Homo sapiens: one gene and its partners. The protein of the gene in region 1 purifies or fractionates together with the protein of each later gene. This does not show direct contact. Each region holds a gene or a part of one and is shown in the gene's direction. Other genes may lie near its edges.

Evidence for each region.
Region 2: the proteins of SLC31A2 (region 1) and SLC44A1 purify together in Homo sapiens (affinity purification with mass spectrometry; one large-scale study listed by BioGRID and IntAct). This does not show direct contact.
Region 3: the proteins of SLC31A2 (region 1) and ATP9B purify together in Homo sapiens (affinity purification with mass spectrometry; one large-scale study listed by BioGRID and IntAct). This does not show direct contact.
Region 4: the proteins of SLC31A2 (region 1) and SLC26A2 purify together in Homo sapiens (affinity purification with mass spectrometry; one large-scale study listed by BioGRID and IntAct). This does not show direct contact.
Region 5: the proteins of SLC31A2 (region 1) and SLC9A6 purify together in Homo sapiens (affinity purification with mass spectrometry; one large-scale study listed by BioGRID and IntAct). This does not show direct contact.
Region 6: the proteins of SLC31A2 (region 1) and SLC20A2 purify together in Homo sapiens (affinity purification with mass spectrometry; one large-scale study listed by BioGRID and IntAct). This does not show direct contact.

Annotation. Positions count from the first base shown.
Region 1 is NC_000009.12:113,149,624-113,153,806, forward strand, and holds the start of SLC31A2 (protein SLC31A2), read left to right. Parts: upstream 1-1,383; 5' UTR 1,384-1,451; coding exon 1,452-1,457; intron 1,458-4,183. UniProt on the Homo sapiens protein: Does not function as a copper(1+) importer in vivo. However, in vitro functions as a low-affinity copper(1+) importer.
Region 2 is NC_000009.12:105,251,151-105,254,650, forward strand, and holds part of SLC44A1 (choline transporter-like protein 1), read left to right. Parts: intron 1-3,500.
Region 3 is NC_000018.10:79,067,972-79,072,193, forward strand, and holds the start of ATP9B (probable phospholipid-transporting ATPase IIB), read left to right. Parts: upstream 1-1,422; 5' UTR 1,423-1,439; coding exon 1,440-1,558; intron 1,559-4,222.
Region 4 is NC_000005.10:149,974,258-149,977,757, forward strand, and holds part of SLC26A2 (sulfate transporter), read left to right. Parts: intron 1-3,370; 5' UTR 3,371-3,395; coding exon 3,396-3,500. UniProt on the Homo sapiens protein: Sulfate transporter which mediates sulfate uptake into chondrocytes in order to maintain adequate sulfation of proteoglycans which is needed for cartilage development.
Region 5 is NC_000023.11:136,009,435-136,012,934, forward strand, and holds part of SLC9A6 (sodium/hydrogen exchanger 6), read left to right. Parts: intron 1-1,007; coding exon 1,008-1,149; intron 1,150-3,500. UniProt on the Homo sapiens protein: Endosomal Na(+), K(+)/H(+) antiporter. Mediates the electroneutral exchange of endosomal luminal H(+) for a cytosolic Na(+) or K(+).
Region 6 is NC_000008.11:42,415,975-42,418,603, reverse strand, and holds the end of SLC20A2 (sodium-dependent phosphate transporter 2), read left to right. Parts: intron 1-636; coding exon 637-801; 3' UTR 802-2,129; downstream 2,130-2,629. UniProt on the Homo sapiens protein: Sodium-phosphate symporter which preferentially transports the monovalent form of phosphate with a stoichiometry of two sodium ions per phosphate ion.

The DNA of each region.
Region 1 (4,183 bases):
ATGGCCCAGTAAACCATGACAGCAGCAGCTCTCCCTCTCCAGCCCCATCACAGTGCCACGGCCCATGTTCTCTCCCTGAAGCTGCTCCATTAGCTTTCAGACTGAGAATCTTAAAAGCTGTGTGGGCCGGGCAAGATGGCTCACGTCTGTAATCCCAGCATCCCAGCACTTTGGGAGGCCGAGGCGGGCAGATTACGAGGTCAGGATTTCAAGACCAGCCTGACCAATATGGTGAAACCCCGTCTCTACTAACAATACAAAAATTAACCAGGCATGGTGGTGCGCGCCTGTAGTCCCAGCTACTCGGGAGCCTGAGGCAGGAGAATTGCTTGAACACGGGAGATGGAGGTTGCAGTGAGCCAAGATCGCGCCACTGCACTACAGCCTGGGCGACAGAGCGAGACTCTGTTTCAAAGAAAAGAAAAAAAGCTGTGTGACCCTGAGGATTCTACCATTTACTGAACAAGCTCCCACTGCCAGGTTACATGATAATTTAACATGTATGTTTTCATTTAATCCCTATGACATAGATTTTATTATTATTTTCATTTTACTGACCAGAAAACTGAGGTTCAGAGATGTAAGCTATTTGCCTACGGTCCCAAAGCCAATAGTTGATGCGTATGGATGTGAACTGAGGTTAGCTCCAGGCTCAAGGTCTCTGCTAATACTGTCCTTAGTAAGGTTTCTCTGAAGAGCCTCTTTACTCATAGGCTGATTAGCAAAGGGTTCCTAAATATGCTTAAGAATCAATAACCATTAAAAATCCCTCACCCTACAAGAAACTCCCCATCAAAAAACTGGATCAGTGAAATGAACAGGCAATACACAGAAATGGAAGTACCCGTAAGAAAAATAGTTTACTACCCTAGTAATCAAAGAAAAACAAAATTACACGGGTGTATTCCTTTTGGCTTATCAGATTGGAAAATATTTTTCTAAAAAGAAAAATGTAATTATCTTGTAATGACTACACTAAAAATCTAGGGCATAATTGACTTAATTTACTCCAAATGTGTTGCTATTGCGTCCATAGCACGGACTTGCCCATTTCAACTCAATATATGTTACGCTTGGGGTAGTTTATTACAATGAGCAATAAACATTCTCATAATCGCCAAGACAAGCCAAGTGCAAAACAGGAAGGGCGAAGACAGAGGGCAGCAGGTGGTCCCTCTCGCTCGCGACTCCGGGAACGCCAAGCCTCAGCCCTTGGGAACCTGGGGCGAGGCGCCTGGGTCTCGGCCAGGGGGCGCGCCCGAGGACGCCGAAGTAGGGCGCGTGTGGGGACCACAACTCCCAGGCGCCCGCGCGCCGCCTCGCCCGGACCACGTGATCCGTGCGGCCAGGGTAGCTATCGCGGCGGCGGCGGCGGCGGCGGTTGAACTGACTCGGAGCGAGGAGACCCGAGCGAGCAGACGCGGCCCTGGCGCCCGCCCTGCGCACTCACCATGGCGGTAAGGGCCGGGCGCTACGGTGAAGAGGGTGGGCGGTTGGGGCGGGGTCTCCTGGAGCTGCCATCTCGGCACCCCGAATCCTCGCTGCCGCTGGCCCGGGGCTGGTGAAGGGTGTGTTGGCAGCATTGCCAACAGCTGGAACAGGGTTGGGGGACGCGGCAGGTATAGGTTGCGGTGGCTCTGTGGTTTTCCTCTTTATTTGTCCCTCCTGCTGGGAGGCAGTCCGGCTAGGCGAGCAGTTACCGAGCGCCCGCGGTGGCGCGGCTTGAGAGTGGGGGCGCGGTGGCTGAAGACAGCTGGGTCCGGGGCCCCCGGCCCCGGACCTCTGGCCGGCGCCCCAGGGCGGAGAGCAGCGCCTTGGGAGATTCCAGGAAGGCTTCCACGAAAGGGAAACCCCCGGCGCATTTCAGCCCGCAGCCCCGCGCGCACACCGAGCGCACATCCCCGGCCCTGCTCTTGTCAAGTTTGTAGCCTGATTCTTCGGGGAATAAAACAGAACCAGCTACTTTCCAGCTTCCCTACACTTTCAGTCAGAAAACAGCGTTTCAGACAAGCTGTTTTTCTTGGTAGGGTTCACCTGGGCTGGAGAGAACGACAGCTTGCAAGACTCGTTCGTCTTTGAAGAAGTCATATCATTTTCTTCATCCCATGAAGAATGTCATAGAATTTAAGATACAGGAAGCTCAGCCTGGGCAACATAGCTAGACCCCGTCTCTACAAAAATTAGCCACAAGTGGTGGCAGGCGCCTGTAATCCCAGCTACTCGGAGGCTGAGGCAGGATGAGGAGGATTGCTTGAGCCCAGAAGTTCCAGGCTGCAGTGAGCCATGACCTTCGGCCTGGGCAACAGAACAAGACGTCCTCAAACAAACAAAACAAAAAAAAAAAGATATAGGAAGTGTATGTAGGCCATTTAGTGAAATGATCAGCCGTCCTTTAAAAAGGGAAATAGATGGAAAGCACTTGCAAAAGTTCCCCAGCCAGTCAGCCTAGCAACTGGGACCTTCATCTCCTTCCCAACCCTTGTTTACAAATAAGGAAGCTTTTCTCAAAGTGTAAGTAACCCCAAATGAAGAAATATAGAAGAAAACAAGTTCCAGGGATTGCTCCCTCCTTCACCACAGCCCCACCCTGAAAAAAGCACAAATCAGTTAAACTTTCAGAGGCCAAGATTCATCCCAAGTAGGAAAACAAGATTGGGGCCCTGCCCCTTGCCTATCTGACCACAAAGCCCTTTAATTGAAAACTGTAGCCCAGATCGCTTCTCTCAAGTCAGGGTGTGCTGACTTCCATCTTTTCCTCTAGCAAAAAGGCAAAAGTAGAAAGGGTTGAGTGACAGGTGAGTCTTCGTCCCTCTGGGGCTTCGGACTCCGTGGGTGTTTCCAGCTCTGAACAAACCATACAGTTCATCTTCCCAGCTATCTCCTGCTTCTCTGGCTTCAGAACCATCCTAGCCAACTGCTCTCTGGCCAGGGCAGGTGTCTCTCAGGCGGCTTGGTCCCCAGCACCCCCAGGGAGCCTCCACTGTGCCTCCCTTTCTCTGACCTACAACCTGTTGTAATTATTTGCTCACTTAAATGTCCCCCCTCATAGACAGGTAGCTCCCTAAGGGCCAAAGACTTGTCCCATTCATCTCTGTATCGCCAGGGTCTGCACAGACCTAGCACAACAAAAAGAAATCTTTCAAATTACTCTTACTGTTCTGTGGGTGTTCAGGTCTATGGCAAAACATGTCTGGGCTGTTTTGGGCTCCTAAGATAACTGGCCCAGGCCCAAGGATGATAGAAGGAAACCAGTTATGGCAACTCCCTGACTGATTAATTAGCCACTAGGGACATTCCATTCATACCATCTGCTTTACCAAATGGACTCAGAGAAGGGGTGATGGGTGTCACCCCTACCTCTACCTGGCAGAGATGGTGCTAGAGGCTTCTGCTGAGGATGAGGCCATCTCCGGTGTAAATGGAGTTTCACAGTATTGTTTGTACCTGTTTGGTTTTGTATATCAATCTTGCGTAAACATTTTGCTGTGTCAAAATGTTTTTTTTTTTTTTGAAAGCCTAACAGGAGAGATCTCTGAGTAGTAAGACTCAAAATGATTTTTTACTTTCTTTTCGGTACTGTGTCAGCTTTTTACATTGAGCTAGTGCCATTGGGGGTGGGGGGTAAAAGCTATTCTTATTTTTAAACTCTTCAACATTTTTTAAAGTCTTCAACATGATCTTTATCATGTTGTGATGTGACCGCCTAGATTTCCATTTTGAAGCTCTCATATAATTTACTTGACCAGTCCCTACTGGTTGACAGGAGACCATCATGGTTCCTATGATTTCTCAAAGTGTGACCCCCAACAAACACCTGTCCTAGAAACACCTGTCCCAGAAACACCCAGTACACTAAGGTTTGAGAACCAGTACAGGCTTTCCAGAAAACTCTCTGGCTCTGGGTACCTGATTGCCGAGTGACCATGGGGAGATAAGTGGGCTTTTATGTACCTTCCTTGTTAAAGAGGTTAATAATAGTAGGCACCTGCGGAGATGTCACAGGGAGTGACACATAATAAATGGAAGGTGAACGTGGTACAGGCACATGCAGTCCCTCAGAAGACACAGAGCTGTGTGGCTGTTCTGTCCAATCAGATGCTTTCACATTTCTTTCTCTGTCCTGCAGCTCCACGGTCTCCAGTGAGCCCAGTCCCTGGGTAGGCGCAGGCAGGGGTTGGTGACA
Region 2 (3,500 bases), 7.9 Mb from region 1:
ACAGGCAACTCAAACTCAGCATGTTTAAATCTGTCCTCAAAATCGTACCCCTCACCCCCGGCTTTTTCAGTACTTTATCTCTGGTTCACCGAATGATACCAATGCCCTGGTTGTGGAAACTGGAGACTCGAGTCCTGTAGGGAACCTGCCTCTCACTCTTCTATATCTAGTCACCACATCTTGCCTCTTTGACCTTCTCAACGTCACTGCCAGCACTCCGGTTCAAGCCTCTGTCATCTCCAGCCCAGTACCTTGGTTACAGATCTCTCCGTAACTGTTCATGCTCCCTTCTAATTTTTCTTCGTATTGCAGTCTTGGTGATCTTTGAAAAATCCCAAGCTAATTGTGTTCCTCTCCTACTTAAAACCCTTTAATGGTTTCCCATTGCTCTTAGGACAAAGACCAGAACCCTTGACCCTGGACAACAAGACCCTGTGTGTGGCTGTTCTCCATCTCTCTATAGGGTCACCTTGTGGTGTGCTTTTCTTTGCTCATTGCACTGCAGCCTCACAGATTCTTCAGTTGGTTGTATTCCTTCCTCTTAGAGGGCTTTTGCATATGTGGTTCACTTGTCTAGGAGGCTCTTTGCTTTGCTCCCTGGCTTTTGGCTGGTTGCTTTAAGTTTCAGTCTGAAAGTCACTTCCTTGGAAAAGCCTTTTCTGATCCCTTCAAACTAGGCCATGTCTCCTCATTAAACTCTCATAGCCTTATGTGTTTTCCCTGTGAGCACTTAAAGCAGTAAACACGTAATTTTACAGTTAATATTAATGTCTAGACTAGGTGGCGGCAAACTACAGCCCATGGGCCAAATCTGACCTGCTACCTGTTTTTTATGGCTTACGAGCTAAGAATGGTCTTTACGTTTTTAAGTGGTTGAAACAAATCAAAAGAATATGATTTCATGAGAAATTTATTTAATAAATTATGAAATTTTAATTTCATTCACAAGGTTTTATTGGGACACAGTCATATTAATTCATTTACTTGTCTATAGCTGCTTTCATATGACAGTGTCAGAGTTGAGTAGTTGTGACAGAGGCCTTATGGCCTGCAAGCATAAATATTTACTCTGTGTCCCTTTACAGAAAATGTTTGCTGACCCTTGCTCTAGGCTGAGTTGATGAAGAGAGGGGCCGTGTTTGCTTTGTTTATTGCCATCTTGGTGCTTAGCTGGTACCAATACATGGTAGGTACTCATGAAATATTTGAATGAATTAACAGATATTCTGTTTCCCTCCATGGATAGAGGTGATTGAACTCCTACCTTAGAACACTGGGGTTTTAAAATTCATTATAAGAATTTTAAAACGATTCTTCTTTGGAAGACTCTTAACAGCATGTTCAGGGCTCTCTTAAGCAGCTTGTCTGTTGAAGGTATACATGTCACGTATGGAGCAAGTATACTTATAAAGGTGTAAGTTACTGGGTCAAGGTGGACAGGAAAGGGCTAGTGCGCTCAAGTAATGGACCAGTCAGATTTACAGTGGTGATGTTTTTATAGCAGGCACAAATGGGTGAGACTTTATGGCAAGCGTTGTAAAGAAAACGTGTTTGAGCTGGTGAAAAATTTAAGTCATTAAAGAGTTAGACATTGTTATCTCTGCTGTGGGAATTCACTCTGTGAAGATGGTTAAAGTTTTTGACACAGTAATATTTCCTCCTTTTTGATACTTTTTGTTTTCTAATTTATTTGGAATATAGCATAGCATAATGTTCCAATTTTGAATTTATGCATTGTGTAAAATTTAGTAATTTTTTTGGCAATTTAAAAAACAGATTTACATTTTTCAGTATGTTTTATTATACTCAATAGAGGGATGCCAGTTTTTCCCCTCTGGGGGACTCCTTTGTAATTGTATAATATGATAATGTTGTATAATAGGATTCATTTAACAAACATTTGGTTGATAAACCCCTGGAATTTATTTTTTTGTGAAAATATTATTATTCCTTTTAGTTACTCTCTACAATATCCCACAACCAGATATTTAGACTTATTTAGTAGGAAAACCCTTAAAAGCAACTTTTATTCAAATTTTTAAGGTTGCCAGAAATGCTGAAAATTATTAAATGGAAGTGTTTGACTTCTGGATATGTTTATAATATGTAAAGTAAAAAAACCAGCAGGAAGATGGAAAAATTGGAAACATGATTACTTCAAGATATTTAAGTAGCAGGGAAGGTATTAAAGTTTGTTTGTTTTTGTAGATTTGTGATAATATAATCATGATTATGATCTCAGAAAATTCTTCATTTTGAACTACTTATGATGTTACAGCTATAAGAAATAAAAAAGGCTGGGTTTGGTGGCTCACACGTATAATCCCAACACTTTGGGAGGCTGAGGCAGGAGGATTACTTGAAGCCAGGAGTTCTAGACCATCCTGGGCAATATAGTGAGACCCATCTCTACAAAAAATAGCAAAACAAATTAGCCAGGTATGGTGTCGTGTGCTTTTGGTCTCAGCTACTCAGGAGGCTGAGGTGGGAGGAAGATCTCTTGAGTCTGGGAGGTTGAGGCTGCATTGAGCTATGATCGTGCCTGTATTCCGGCCTGGGTGGCAGAGCCAGACCCTGTCTTTATTTTTTTTTGAGACAGAGTCTCGCTCTGTTGCCCAGGCTGGAGTGCAGTGACACAATCTCAGCTCACTGCAATCTCCGCCTCCCGGGTTTAAGCGATTCTCCTGCCTCAGCCTCCAAGTAGCTTGGACTACAGGTACCCGCCACCACACCTGGCTAATTTTATGTATTTTTAGTAGAGATGAGGTTTCTATGTTGGCCAGGCTGGTCTCGAACTCCTGACCTTGTGATCTGCCTGCCTCGGCCTCCCAAAGTGCTGGGATTATAGGCGTGAGCCACTGTGCCTGGCTGAGACCCTGTCTTAAACAAAGAAACAAACAAATAATAATAATAAAAAAAACCCTTAAATCCAAATAGCTAAAACATTAAGGAAAATTGATTATCTCCTATAGGTCAAGGGGTAGGGTAGCTTTCAGGTTGGTTAGTTCAGTGGCTTGATGTCAGCAAGGACGTAAGTTCTCTCCTTGTTTCTTTTTTGTCATTTTACGGAAGGTAGCTTTTTCTTAATTAGCTCCCCTCAAGATCCCAAGATGGCTATGGCTCTTCTTACCGTCTTTTGCTGAGCTGACAATCTCCAGTGGTTTTCCTTTCATGGGAATTAGAGAGGGCTGCACACTTATCCCTAAACAAGCTCTAACAAGAGGAAGGCAAAGGACTCTGCAATTGATTTAGAGTAACCAGGACTTCCCTCTGAGTCAAGTGAGGGGCAGGGCAACACCGGAACAAAAGGAGGACTTTGCCAGCAAGGTGGCGGCAGGGATGCAGGATTGGGCGTGGTGACTGGGTAGGCAGCCAATACTATCTGCTATGGTTTTGCCATTTTCTTTTGTCTTTAAATCAGACTTCTATAGTGTTTCCTAACATTTTACTTATAGCCCCATTATGAACTTCACAGTTCGTAGTTCAAAGTCACACAGTTA
Region 3 (4,222 bases), on another chromosome or scaffold:
GTGTCTGTGGAGTGGCATGTATTCAGGTTACATGAAAAGCAGCTGAGAAGCAAACTGGCAATCAGAGTGGCAGCAACAAATTAAGAATATTCATATTCATAAAGACCATTTTTTATAATGAAAAAGTAATACATGCAGATGGGGGAAGATCACCTGAACCTTGAGAGGTGGAAGATGTAGTGAGCCGTGATCAAAACATTACACTCCAGCCTGGGTAACAGAGACCCCATCTCCAAAAAACAGAAAAGAAAAGCATTTATAAGTTCATGTTGAACAGTGTTTCAAACACATAGACAAAATTTATATGTCATGAAAATGGAATATCAGAAAAACATTGTTTAAAAAAACACAAAGTGAGTAAACCATTAATACGTGAGGTGAGCGGTGCATCAGCTTGCCGGCTTCCAGCTGCAGCGGGTGATGGAGGTGGAAGGGAGCTGTCCTCGGGACAGGAAATGAAACAAACCCAACCAAAGCCGTGTATTCGTTTATTCAATATCGTTTTGCTTTCTTGTGTAGACTGAGGGTGTAAACCTCGTTTCTGACAGTCGCCTATAGGACTTTTCAGCAGGCTGTGGGCCTAGAGGTGGGGGATGTGGAATCAAGCTAAAGACCCAGAACCAGAGAAAGAAGGAAGCAGCAGTGAGGAAGCAGGACAAGAACATCTCGGAAATTCAGCCCGGCGCGGTGGGCGCGCCTGCAGTCGCGGCGCTTTGGGGGCCCGGGCCACGTAGCACGACCCTGCCTGTGAACGCACAGACACCAGCGGTTCCAAGGGCGCGGGCAGGAAGCGGGCACCGAAGGCAGGCTGGAGAAGCGCGGGGCGGAAGCAAGAAGCCGCGCGGCGAGGAGGGCGCGTGGGGCCCCACACAGCCATGGGGCGCGCGTACTACTGGCAGCGCAGGCTCTGGACCGCTAAGGAGGCCGCGCGCGCCCACGCGTGTCCCCGGCAGAGCTTCCAGGAGACGGCTGCGAGGCCCTTCCACCCGCGGACCAGAGCGCGCCGGGTCGAACCACGACCCACGTGCAGGCCCTCGCGCGCTACCGGAAGGCCAGCCTGTGGCGCACGCGCGCCCCGCCCCGCCGATCGGTGACGTCATCGGGCCCGTCACGAGGCGGGGGCGGGGCCTCGGAACGCGACGCCCCCCGTCCCAGCTTTAGCCACTCGTGACGTCATTGCCCGGACTCCACTGCCTCCTGCGCCGCGCTTTTGCCACCCTGGGCACGTCATCGTGCGCCGACGCCAAACGAGGGCGGGGCCTAGGGACGCCACACCTTCCGCGCCGCCGCTCGTTACGTCATCGGACCTCGCCGCTTGGCGGAGGCGGGGAAGGCCCGCAGGCGGCGCCTCAGCCGGGGTTGGCGCTGAGGGGAGAGGGCGGGGAAAAGGTGGCGAATTGAGGGGAAAGTGGGAGGGGCGGGAAAGGGGCGGTCGGAACATGGCGGACCAGATCCCGCTTTACCCGGTGCGTAGCGCAGCGGCGGCCGCAGCCAACCGCAAACGCGCGGCCTACTACAGCGCCGCGGGGCCCAGGCCGGGAGCCGACCGGCACAGCAGGTAACCGAGGCGGCACTGGCCCCGTTCCCCGCCGACGCTCCCCGGGGCCCCCAGCCCACCGCAGGAACCCGGAGCCGGGCGGGTCTGGGGTCGCTACCGGCGCGCCCCATCTGTTCGCTGGGAGCCGGGAGTCCTTGGCGTTCTGAGCGCGCCGCAGCTGTGGCGTCCGCCGGTGGTGAGGGCCGCGGGCAGCTGCCGGGGCGAGCGGCTGCATCCCCGGGACGCCTGGGCCGAGCGTAGGAGCCAGAACGGGAGCAGAGAACCGCGGTCCAGTGTTGAGGGGTGGCTGCTCTCCTAAAGTAAACGGGGATCAAAAGTGCTAACTTCTCGGATACTTCAGAGTCTCCGAAACTTGTTCTTGTAGCCCTGTGAATTGTGAAGGTGACGGATGTAACTTTTAATTGCTTTGTTAAAAACACACTTCTTATTGAAATGACTTCTCTTCGACATTTCGATATCTTTGCTAGGCACACTTTTTGTTTAAACATATATATACAAAGTGCTTTTTGTCGACAAGTAATTTTGCTTTTACGAAAGGGAAATGGGGTATTGAGAACGGTTAACTTGTTTAGTGGGGTCACAGGTTAGCAGTAGAATTAGTGTACAGACCTTTCATACTCGAGATTGCATTTAGCTCATATTTAACATTTCTCATTCAAAGAAAAGAAAATTTTAAAAAGTGTTGCTTCTTATAGTTTTTGAAGTTTTATTCCAGAGGAATTGTCGAAAACATAATTTCACTCAATATGTAGTTGCTTCAGAATTTGAGTTTTTGAATAATTTTTGTTTTCGGCCATTTGAGAGACTAACATATAGCTCAAAGTACATACTGGAATGTTATAACGCTGATTTGAGTGTTTACCCACTAGCGATTTACTCTCGGGTAACTTATTTAAACTCAAGCCATGGTTTCCTCATCTGTAAAATGCTGGATAATATTTTTTCTTACGGGATTATTGGAGATTACAGTAGAACATGTGTAAGGTGCCCTTTTTTCAGTGCTTGGTTGGAAGTGGGTTCTGGTGTTACCTATAACAGTAATTGTGTTAGTAAATCTGTTTAATTTTAGGAGTTCTTTAGTTGGAAATGTGCCACCTGTTTCAAAATAGGTTTCCATCACAGATTGAATCCATTTTTGCCTCATGTACTTTGAAGCACTGTCATGTGGTGCACGCACATTCAAGATTTTTTGTCATCTCGGTGGATTGTTCCTTTCATTGTTAATGTTCCTCTGTCTCTGGTAATTTTCTTTGCTCTAAAATCTTTATTAGATATTGATGTCGCCATTTATGCTTTTTTTTGGATTAATGTTTGCATGGTATTAGCTTTCAACTTACCTATGTTGAATTTGAAGTGAGTTTCTTGTTGGATCTTATATTTTTTATCAACTATGCCATTCTCTTTTGATTGGCATATTTACACCATTTACATTTACGATAATTACTGATATGTTAGAATATAAGTGTGCCATTTATTATCTGTGTTCTGTTTCTTCTGATTCTCATTCTGATTCCTGTTTCTTTTTTTTTTTTTTTTTGCCACTTTTTGGGTTACTTGGACACTTTTTTGGTATCCCTATAGTGTGTTTGAGATTAGGTGTTGGTATAGTTTTTACAGTGCTTGCTCTGGGTATTACAATATACAAATGTGACTTATCACCATGGTGTATTGCTGTATTTCACCACTTCCAGTCAAGTGTGGAAACCCTTCTTTCACTTAGGTCCTCACTTTAAGTATCATGTCCTGGGTATCAGATGGTGTTACAGTTTTTGTGTCAGTCATCAAATATGGTTTATAAAACTCATGATGATAAAGATAGTGTATTGCATATACCACATACGCATATTTCCCCTTTTTCTATTGTTCTTCCTTTTTTTTTTTTTTGAGACAGGGTCTCACTCTGTTCTCCTGGCTGGAGTTAGTGATGCGATCGTAGCTCATTACAGCTTTGATCTGTTGGGCCCAGGCAATCCACCCATGTAGCTGGGACTATAGGCACATACCACCATGCCTGGCTAATTAAAAAAAATTTTTTTTGAAGAGACAGCATCTTGCTATATTGCCCAACTGGTCTCAAGTGATCCTCCTGTGTCATCCTCCCAGAGTGTTAGGATTAAGGCGTGAGCCATGGCTGCTAGCCTGCCATTCTTTTCTTAGCACTTGAAAAATCTTGTGCTGCTTCCTTCTTGTGTCCATGGTTTCTGATTAGGATGCTGCTGTCACTCAGATTGATGTTCCCCTGTAGATAATGTGTCATTTCTCTCTGGCTGCTTTCAAGTTTTTACTTTGTCTTTAGTTTTCAGAAGTTTAATTATGATGTGTCTTATCATGGATTTCTTTGGATTTCATGTTTGGTTTTGTTTTTTTTTTTTTTTTTGGTTTTCGAATAAATTTAGGGAGTTTTTAGCCATTATTTCTTCAACTACTCTTTGTTGTTGTTGAAATAATGGAGAGTTGCTCCCACTCTCTTCTCTCCATTTGGATTTCCAGTGTTAAGAAAGTTGGATCTTATGTTGGTGTTTCATAATTTCCTTAGGCTCTTTCCCTGTTTCTTTTCTCTGTGTTGTTCAGATTGTGTAAATTCTATTAATCTCTTCTCAAGTTCCCTAATTCTTTTTTTTTTTAATTTTTTTCAGTATTTATTGATCATTCTTGGGTGTTTCT
Region 4 (3,500 bases), on another chromosome or scaffold:
AAGTAATATATGTTTTTTCTTTGTCTTCAGGATTTTCTCTTTATCTTTTGTTTTCAGCAGCTTGAATATCATATGTGTAGGTGAGGGTTTTTGTTTTCTTTTTGTTTTTATATTTACTCTTCTTGGAATTCTCTAAGATTCTTGGAGATAGATTATATATTATATATATATGTATTTTTTTTTTGAGACAGAGTTTTGCTTTGTCACCATGCTGGAGTGCAGTGGCGCGATCTTGGCTCACTGCAGCCTCCGCCTCCCAGGTTCAAGCAATTCTCCTGCCTCAGCCTCCTGAGTAGCTGGGACTACAGGAGCGCACCACCATGCCCAGCTAATTTTTGTATTTTTTTAGAAGAGACGGGGTTTCACCATGTTGGCCAGGATGGTCTTGATCTCTTGACCTTGTGATCTGCCTGCCTTGGCCTCCGGAAGTGTTGGAATTACAGGTGTGAGCCACTGCACCCGGCCTTTTTTTTTTTTTTTTTTTTGAGAAGGAGTTTTCCTCTTGCTGTCCAGACAGGAGTGCAATGGCGTGATCTCGGCTCACTGCAACCTCCAGTTCCTGGGTTCCAGCGATTCTCCTGCCTCGGCCTCGCGAGTAGCTGGGATTACAGGCGTGTGCCACCATGCCTGACTAATTTTATATTTTTAGTAGAGACCCTGTTTCACCATGTTGGTCATGCTGGTCTTGAACTCCTGGCCTCAGGTTACTTGGATCTATATTTTGATGTCTCTTATTAATTTTGGAAATTTCTTGGCCATTATATCTTGAAATATTTCTTCTGCCCATTCTCTCTCTTCTTTTGGTATTCTAATTATGCATATGTTTGATACTTTGATGTGTCCCGCAGCTCTTGGATGTTATGTTACATTGTTGATATTGGGGGTTTTTTGTTTTGTTTCGTTATTTAAACTTTTCTGCGTTTTAGTTTAGCTAATTTCTGTTTATCTGTCTTTTTGAGTTCATCGATTCTTTCTTTGGCTTTCAGGTCTAGTAATGATCCTATCGAAGGCATTCATCATCTCTGTTACTGTGTTTTTCACTTTTAGCATTCCTTATTTGATTTTTTCTTACAGTTTCCATTTCTTTGTTTTACTTTCTATGTGAATTTTTATCTATATTCTTCCCAGATAGCAGCCATACTGGGCAAGATTTGGATTCCCTTAGTTTTTTCTTATGTCTCTTTTGCATATCTTAGGTTTGGAAAAACCTTTTCACCCAGAAATCACCAAGAGCTCTCCAAAATAGGACGTTGGTGCACTCAAGCTAGCTCTAGAAAGCAGGAAATGACAGGAGAGTCACAGACTGGTTGCATTGTAGAGCAAAGAGCTGCTGGGTGTATCCATCAACCTGATTGATTTTCTCAGGGTCAGTGGTCACCTAAGTCTATTCTTTCTTTCCTTATCTACTTCAGAAGACCATCAAAATATTTACTCATGTTAAACCTAAACAAAATGAATATGGGTTACTTTTACATATCTTGTGTTCTTGAATAAGTCATAGGTCCTGGATTTTGGCAGTTTGGTAACGTAAGGTTTATAGAACTTCACAAGGGCCCATTTTTCTGTCAGTTCCAAAACAAGAAACTTCCTGAGTCCTTCATCTAAAATATATTGTCTCGGCTGGGTGCAGTGGCTCGTGCCTGTTATCCCAGCACTTTGGGAGGCTGAGGCGGATGGATCACCTGAGGTTAGGACTTCGAGACCAGCCTGACCAATATGGTGAAACCCTGTCTCTACTAAAAATGCAAAAATTAGCCAGGCGTGGTGGCATGCACCTGTAATCCCAGCTACTCAGGAGGCTGAGATAAGAGAATTGCTTGAACCCAGGAGGTGGAGGTTGTAGTGAGCTGAGATTGCACCACTGCACTCCAGCCTGGGCGACAGAGTGAAACTCTGTCTCAAAAAAAAAAAAAAAAATGTCTCTATCTGGCCACAGTCACAAATGTTTGTTCATTTGTTCATTCATTCATTCAAATGTTTTGTAAGCCTGCTATCTCAGCGTTACTACATTCCATTCAGATTACACTGATGAACAAGATGTCTTTCCTCCAGGAGCTAGAGAGATTCCTACTTCACTAATACAAGAGTGTGGTTAGTACTCTAATGGAGGTGCAACATGCTATGGGACACAGAGGGTGTAGTATTTCATTTGGGCTAGGGGAGATTGGTTAGTGCTTTCTGGAAAAGGTAGCATTGTAACTGGGTTTTAAAAAATTATTAGGATCTTGACAGGCAAAGAGGTGGATGGCCATTCTAAGCTAAGTAAACAGCTTATGTAAAGGCACTAATTCATGAAGCATTTGGTAAACAATTTATGTTCTATTCCTTTGAGAGCCTGGTTCATTTTCTTCTCTTACTCCGGTTATTAGACTTACTATTTGTTGTTGTCCTTTCTCTTTTTCTGGCTATTTTTACCTCCTTTGTTTTCCTATAGTTCCTCATGGTAGATCTTATGGCATTAGTTTTATAGTCTAGGACACAGAGATGAAGGATCACCTGTATTGCCTCCAAGTGGAAGTGCAGGGCAACATTATTTCTCTATTTAACCTGTGTTTCAGTGTGTGTACTTAGAATAGTAAAGTGAATCTTGCATGAATGTAGGCCCTGCCCACAGGGCAGATGACTCCATACTAGAACATAGTGGAATAGACAAAAACCTTCTACAGCATGTATGAGACACTTGGCCCATCGACCCTCTTCATGCCCTTTACATTCAGCACCCTCATATTGACTTCTCTCTCCTCTTTCCTACCAAGCAAGGGAGTACTGTTCAAAGACGCAAATGCATTCTGCCCTAGTTTCTTTTTATTGCTAAAAACATTTATCTTTACCCTACAACCTACTTTTCTATTTATTTTCAACATTTAGCAGGTTGTTTAAAAAGGGACCAAAAAATAAAACAGGACCATCTTCCTTGTTTCAGGGACTGGTAGGCAGGCATTAAGGTTAAGGTAGGGGTTAAGACCAGATCCTATTTTGCAGTCTGCCTGGGAGGTGAAAAACCTGGGAAGAAGACCGCTGGTAGCATATGTATGGAAAGGAGACAGGCTGCCCTTACATCTTTTCAGGAGGAAAAACTGCCAGGGGGAGCCAGGCATATATGGAGAAGAATCCTTAATGGTTTATACTCTTGGGAAGTCCTGTACCCAGCCAGTTATTTGCTTTGACTTGGCTGTTTAAGGTCTGGTTCTGGTCTTTTTTTTTCCCCCTAACCAAGACAAATGAGGCTCAATTAAGGAAAAGGGACATAAGATACCTATTCCAAAACTGAATTCCTTTTAACTCTCATGAAATGACAAATAGAATTGTTAGTATATGTGAGCACTGAGAATTACTTTATTGATGAACACTGGTATTTTCTCTGGTGTAGGAAGCTGAACCATCTATCTCCAGAAATGTCTTCAGAAAGTAAAGAGCAACATAACGTTTCACCCAGAGACTCAGCTGAAGGAAATGACAGTTATCCATCTGGGATCCATCTGGAACTTCAAAGGGAATCA
Region 5 (3,500 bases), on another chromosome or scaffold:
TAGCAAACATTTTTCAGCCTTGAATCAGAAAAAAACATTGCAGCAACCACAGGGAGAATTCATTATATTTTTAGGAATGTGTTTTTCCTTCTTTTCTTTGACGTGATTTGTATGATGTTGTTGAGTCTGGACTTTTTATAATGCTGGTCTCTCAATTAACTGAGATGAGAACTGATTTAGTAACGGTAAGCACCGTTGCCAAAGACCTGCTGGCAACAGCAATTTTCTCAGGCATTTCTATTTCCTGGGGTGGTAACTGTTACAAAAGAAGCTTTTTCAGACCAGGTTTGGACTGTGAGTTCAAGATGGAGAGCATCTCCTATAATTGCCTGTCTTGGCCTGGTATAGAGTGACTTTCTTTCAGAAGTTTGAGGTGGAAGATCCAGCTGGTTATGCTGAAAGTACTGTTGAGTGGATTCTAATTCCTTGGGAGGTCTTTCGAGTGCTTTTTCCTATAATAGTCCATTTCAGTGAATGAATAGATATTAGGCATTTGGCCCATTCTAGAATTCTAAAAGTTGGAAGGGTCCTTCAGTTACCTTTTTTTCTCATAGGAAAAACAAAATGTGACTGGGTTGAGTATTGAATAATGTTCTTTATGTTCTTATGCCTCTACTGGAAACAAGTGGGATTTTTCATTAGTTTGTTCACATTAGTATGTTAAGGCTTTCGGACACTCAGTACTAGTAATTCTGAAACAGAATCACAAAAGAATAATACTGCACAGTATCTTGGGGATGGGGGAAAAAGCTTGGTGCAATTTTCATATAGAGGATTTTACAATGTTCTACCCCCCCCCCGAAATTAACATTTAAGGGAAAGCCAAGTTTTCTTGCTAGCCAGATACATTGCAGGATTTTTGGGTAATTTTGTCCTTATTTTGGCAATTCCAATCGAAAGCTTGTTTTTCTTCTCCCTCTAATTTCATCTTTCAAGCTCTATACTACATAATGTTTTTTTAAAAGTAAAGGTTGTTTTCAGAAGTAAAAGCAGTCTCTCTTCTGTAGCTCAATAGTGGCATACCAGCCAGCTGGAGACAACAGTCACACCTTTGATGTCACAGCGATGTTCAAGTCTATTGGGATCTTCCTTGGAATCTTCAGTGGATCTTTTGCAATGGGTGCTGCTACTGGAGTGGTGACAGCTTTAATATCCTTTTGTTATATTTATCTTTTCTTGTTAACATAATATAGTAGTTGAATGCTGTATTCCGTTGTTTTTCCTAGTTCTATGATTAGAATTATGTTAGAATTATTAATCTTATAACTAAGTACTTGGTTTGAAAACATTAAGCAACAGTCTTTGCCAATAAATAAATAAAAGAACTGTATTGTTCTGCATAGGGTTTGGTGCCCTAAAACTTTCACTGCAAGTGTATAATTAGAGATGATATCTCTCTGAGGGTGAATTTTATAGTTGTAGATTAAATAGCTGTAAAGGTAGACATATTCCAAAGAGCCTCTGGGTGTTCTGTGTTGCTGGTCAGCCTGGCAGTCTTTTGCTCTTTGTTTAATAGGACAAATAGGAAATGTACAACAGCGACGCCGAATGAACAAAATGTGTTTCCTTGGTTAGGATATGTAAGAGTTCATCTCAGCTCTCCCGATTTTAAACTTTGTGCTCTAGAGCCCTGGACGGGAAGCCCAAAGGACCTGAGTTGTAGTCCTGGTACTACCACTTAGTCAAGTTATTCTTGTGTTCATGCAAAGGCCATTTTATCCCGGACTTCACCACCATGCAATATATCCATGTCATAAAACTGCACTTGTGCATCCTGAATCTATAAAAACAAATTTTATTTTTATTTATTTATTTGTTTTTTTGAGACGGAGTCTCACTCTTTCGCCCAGGCTGGAGTGCAATGGCACGATCTCGGCTCACTGCAACCTCCGCCTCCCGAGTTCAAGCGATTCCCCCGCCTCAGCCTCCCAAGTAGCTGGGATTACAGGTGCGCAACACCACACCCAGCAAGTTTTTTTATATTTTTAGTAGAGATGGGGTTTCATCATGTCGGCCAGGCTGATCTCGAACTCCTGACGTCAAGTGATCCACCCACCTCGGCCTCCCAAAGTGCTGGGATTACAGGCATGAGCCACCGTGCCCGGCCTAAAAACATGTTTTAAACCCCCCACCCAAAACAAAAAGCCAGAAGGCATGTCTGGATCACCTGCTACATGTGCTGTGCTCTGTGTATCAAAGCTAAAGAAGACAAACATGACCTCTGCCTCCCTGGTGCTTTCGATATAGTGGCAGACACAAACATGCTAGAAGCTTTGACACTTCACCTCTTTGGATCTCAGTGTAGGAAATTGGAGGGTGGGGACGGTAGGAAAGAGGAGTGGGACTAGATGATGTCTAAAGAGTTTCCAGCTCTGGCCTGGTGCAGTGGCTCGTGCCTGTAATCCTAGCACTTTGGGAGGCCATGGCGGGCGGATCACAAGGTCGGGAGATCGAGACCATCCTGGCCAACACGGTGAAACCCCGTCTCTACTAAAAATTCAAAAAATTAGCCGGGCATGGTGGTGGGCGCCTGTAGTCCCAGCTACTCGGGAGGCTGAAGCGGGAGAATGGCATGAACCCAGGAGGCGGAGCTTGCAGTGAGCCGAGATGGTGCCACTGCACTCCAGCCTGGGCGACAGTGCGAGACTCCGTCTCAAAAAAACAAAACAAAACAAAAAAGTTTCCAGCTCTAAAACTTCTATGATACTTGTATAAAACAGATACGTTATTCTTTGTCAAGGACTTCTTAGTTTGGTATACTTCAGCCTTGTGCTGGAAGAGGCTTCTTTTATGGCTTTTTATAAGTGAACTGAGGCATAAAGCAGCAGTAAAAAGAGTTCTGAAGGTGATGCCAAGAGTGATAGTATCTCTTCCCCATTACAAGTTCCTTGAGGGTAGAAAGTATATCTTGTTAATCATTTTGTTGTAGTGCCTAGTTGTAGAAATGACTCTAGATTCTAGCCTGAGATTGGTCGTAACTTGGCACAGGCCCTTCCACTGTCAGCTAACAAATACTTGTTAAACTAGTATAAAGCAGTGAAGTGCCTCAATTTCTTCATCATGGAATGAATGCTCTATATCATAGAAGTGGTAGAGGATCAAATTCGTGTAAAATCTCTTGGAAATTATGTATTTTTATAAATGTAAATTGCTACAATTATGGAAGCTGTCTAGCTTTGGGTCTCAGATTAATAGAGGTGGCATGTTATAGATCTGATCTGTTACTCCCGTCTCTATCTATCCTTTACTGCATGGTTTCTGGCAAGGTGTGTGATACCCGTGAAACAATTGGAGTGGCTAAGCCGTAAGGCTTCCTCACTGAAGGGAAGGCAGCTGACTCCTCAGTAAGATGCTCATTTTAAAAGTCTCCCTATTCTGGTGGTACCTTATTCTGAGATTTCTGTGTTAGAGAAGCTAGAGAACCTTTCTTTCATGGTTGCCTTGCTTAAACTGTTATTTTTTCTAGTCACACTTTTGTGTTACAAGATCTCATTACTAGC
Region 6 (2,629 bases), on another chromosome or scaffold:
CCAGCCTGACCAACATGGCGAAACCCCATCTCTACTAAAAAATATGAAAATTAGCTGGATGTGGTGGTGCTTGCCTGTAATCCCACCTACTCAGGAGGCTGAGACAGGAGAATCGCTTGAACCTGGGAGACATAGCTTGCAGTGAGCTGAGATTGCACCACTGTACTCCAGCACTTTGGGAGGCCAAGGAGGGAGGGTCACTTGAGGTGAGGAGTTCCACATCAGCGTGGCCAACATGGTGAAACCCCGTCTCTACTAAAAATATGAAAATTAGCCAAGGGTGATGGCATGCGCCTGTAATCTCAGCTGCTCAGGAGGCTGAGGCAGGAGAATTGCTTGAACCTGGGAGATGGAGGTTGCAGTAAGCTGAGATCACACCACTGCACTCCAGCCTGGGTGAAGAGTGAGACTGTCTCAAAACAACTATATAAAACAACTATATAAAGAGCTATATGCTGAAGAGAAGAATCCCCAAACAATTCTACCTAAAATCTAAGCTATTTTAAAAGCTTTAACAAATGTAGGGGACTGGGTAATGTTGTACTAGAGCTTGTTTCTGAGATTAGCCCATGTACATTGGTAGAGTGTAGCCTTTGTGGCTCACCTGTTTTTACTTTGCAATGTCTGCTCCCACAGGTGGGCTCGGTGGTGGCCGTGGGCTGGATCCGCTCCCGCAAGGCTGTGGACTGGCGCCTCTTTCGGAACATCTTCGTGGCCTGGTTCGTGACCGTCCCTGTGGCTGGGCTGTTCAGCGCTGCTGTCATGGCTCTTCTCATGTATGGGATCCTTCCATATGTGTGATTTGTCTTCTTCCAGCTGCAAACAGCTAAAGGGATGGTCTGGTGTTGGCGTGTGGGAGACATGTGTGCTCGTGCCGCACATACACATCCTGGCCGTGCACGGCTCTCTCATGACCAGCTCTCTGCCTCCCTTCCAGGAGGCTCCATCCCACACTGTTCACCCAGGCTGCGGAGACTCACCTTCCCGAGCTAACTTAACTACTGTACATAATAATATGTATTAAACTGGTATCGTGGTGATATAATGTGGTGCAGTTACTTATATATTAAATATCTATTGTATCCATAGAATAGGCAGCATTATTTCAAACATATTCAAGTTGGGAGTGGAGATCATTGCCTAGAAGTCAATATTCAATAAATCTTGTACATAACTATTTCGATGGCAAATGTTAAGCCTTCTAAAAGGAAAGTGTAGATTGGAAAATGATTTTTTTTCCAAATGATGTTTTTGCCTTCTAATATACTGTAAGGTAATGAGCTTCAGAACAGGCAACCTGACCCTGCAGAGGTCGCGTGCTGTGGGATGACAGCGGGACGGGAGCTCACAAGTGCTTTCACTGAAGATTTGTTCATATACTGTGTATTGATTGTTGTGTAATATATCATCATTGCTTTTGTAAATACGTAAAACTGTAATTTTTTAATGGTGTGCTTCCCTTATACTTTTTTGATCAGAGAATTTTGGAAAGTACCAAAGAAGCAGGGGAATCATTGGCCAGTGTTACGTTTTCACATTGTCTGTCTCCCACCCTCACTGATCACGCCTGCCCCAGAGCAGTGTGTGGCGGTGACACCGTCACCCAGCATGCGCCACGCCGTGGCTCCCACCAGCAGTGCCACCGCCACCACACCCCAGATCCCACCCACCTTGCAGTGGCCTTTCCTTGTCATCAGAGTAGAGAATGCACAGGTGTTGGTGAGGGCGTGTGGCTGAGCACTACATGTCAAGTCCAGAGTCAGTTTCTATCCCAATTCTCCCTGCAGCCTGAAGAACGGATCCTTGTCTCCAATGTCAGCACAAAGGAGGCTTTTTCTGTGCTTTGACATTCTAGCACTTCAGGGATGAGAGGGAGGGAGAATCCTGGATGCTGGATGGAGTATTTCTCTGAGGCCCACACAAAGCTGGACACCCCCAGGCTCTACTCCATCCCATTGGAGTCTCTTCTTTTTTTGATAGCGGGAGGGAGGAAGTACGACTAATGTTGGAGCCTGAAACTATGGAAATGCTGCTAAAATTTTTATATTGACAAACATTTTCTTGGTACTTCATTGTCATTTTTCATTAATCAACCATATTAAATTTATAATAAAAAATGCCCCTCAGAAGTTTGCCTCTGAAGCCTTTTTCTCAATATTGACAATTTTTCTTTCAGAGTGAGTTTCCACAAAAACCAAAGCTATATAATTTGGCCCTTGTATTTTTCACATACCTTTTTTTGGTTTCCCTTATTTGACTACTGTTACGGGCTTGTACAGAAAACACAGGTGAGCAGGAAAGGGAGGCACGGCGTCCCCGCCCCGCATTCAGAAACCCGCAGTCAGCAGCTCATGGAGCAGTCGGTTGCCATGTTCAGGGCTGAGGACCCAGCAGGGAAGTGCAGGTCTTATCCTTTGCTCAAGCAGCCAAAAACACCCTGGCTTGCATATTCTGGAGCCCCCAGAGGGAAACCCCTTAATCCTCTGTAGCGGTGGTGGCACAAGCTCCGACTCCCTTAGGAGCTGTGAAGGTGACAGATGAGGCAAAGTGGCAGGTGTGAAAAATGCATCTTGTGGCCGGGCACGGTGGCTCACGCCTGTAATCCCAACACTTTGTGAGGCTGAGGTGG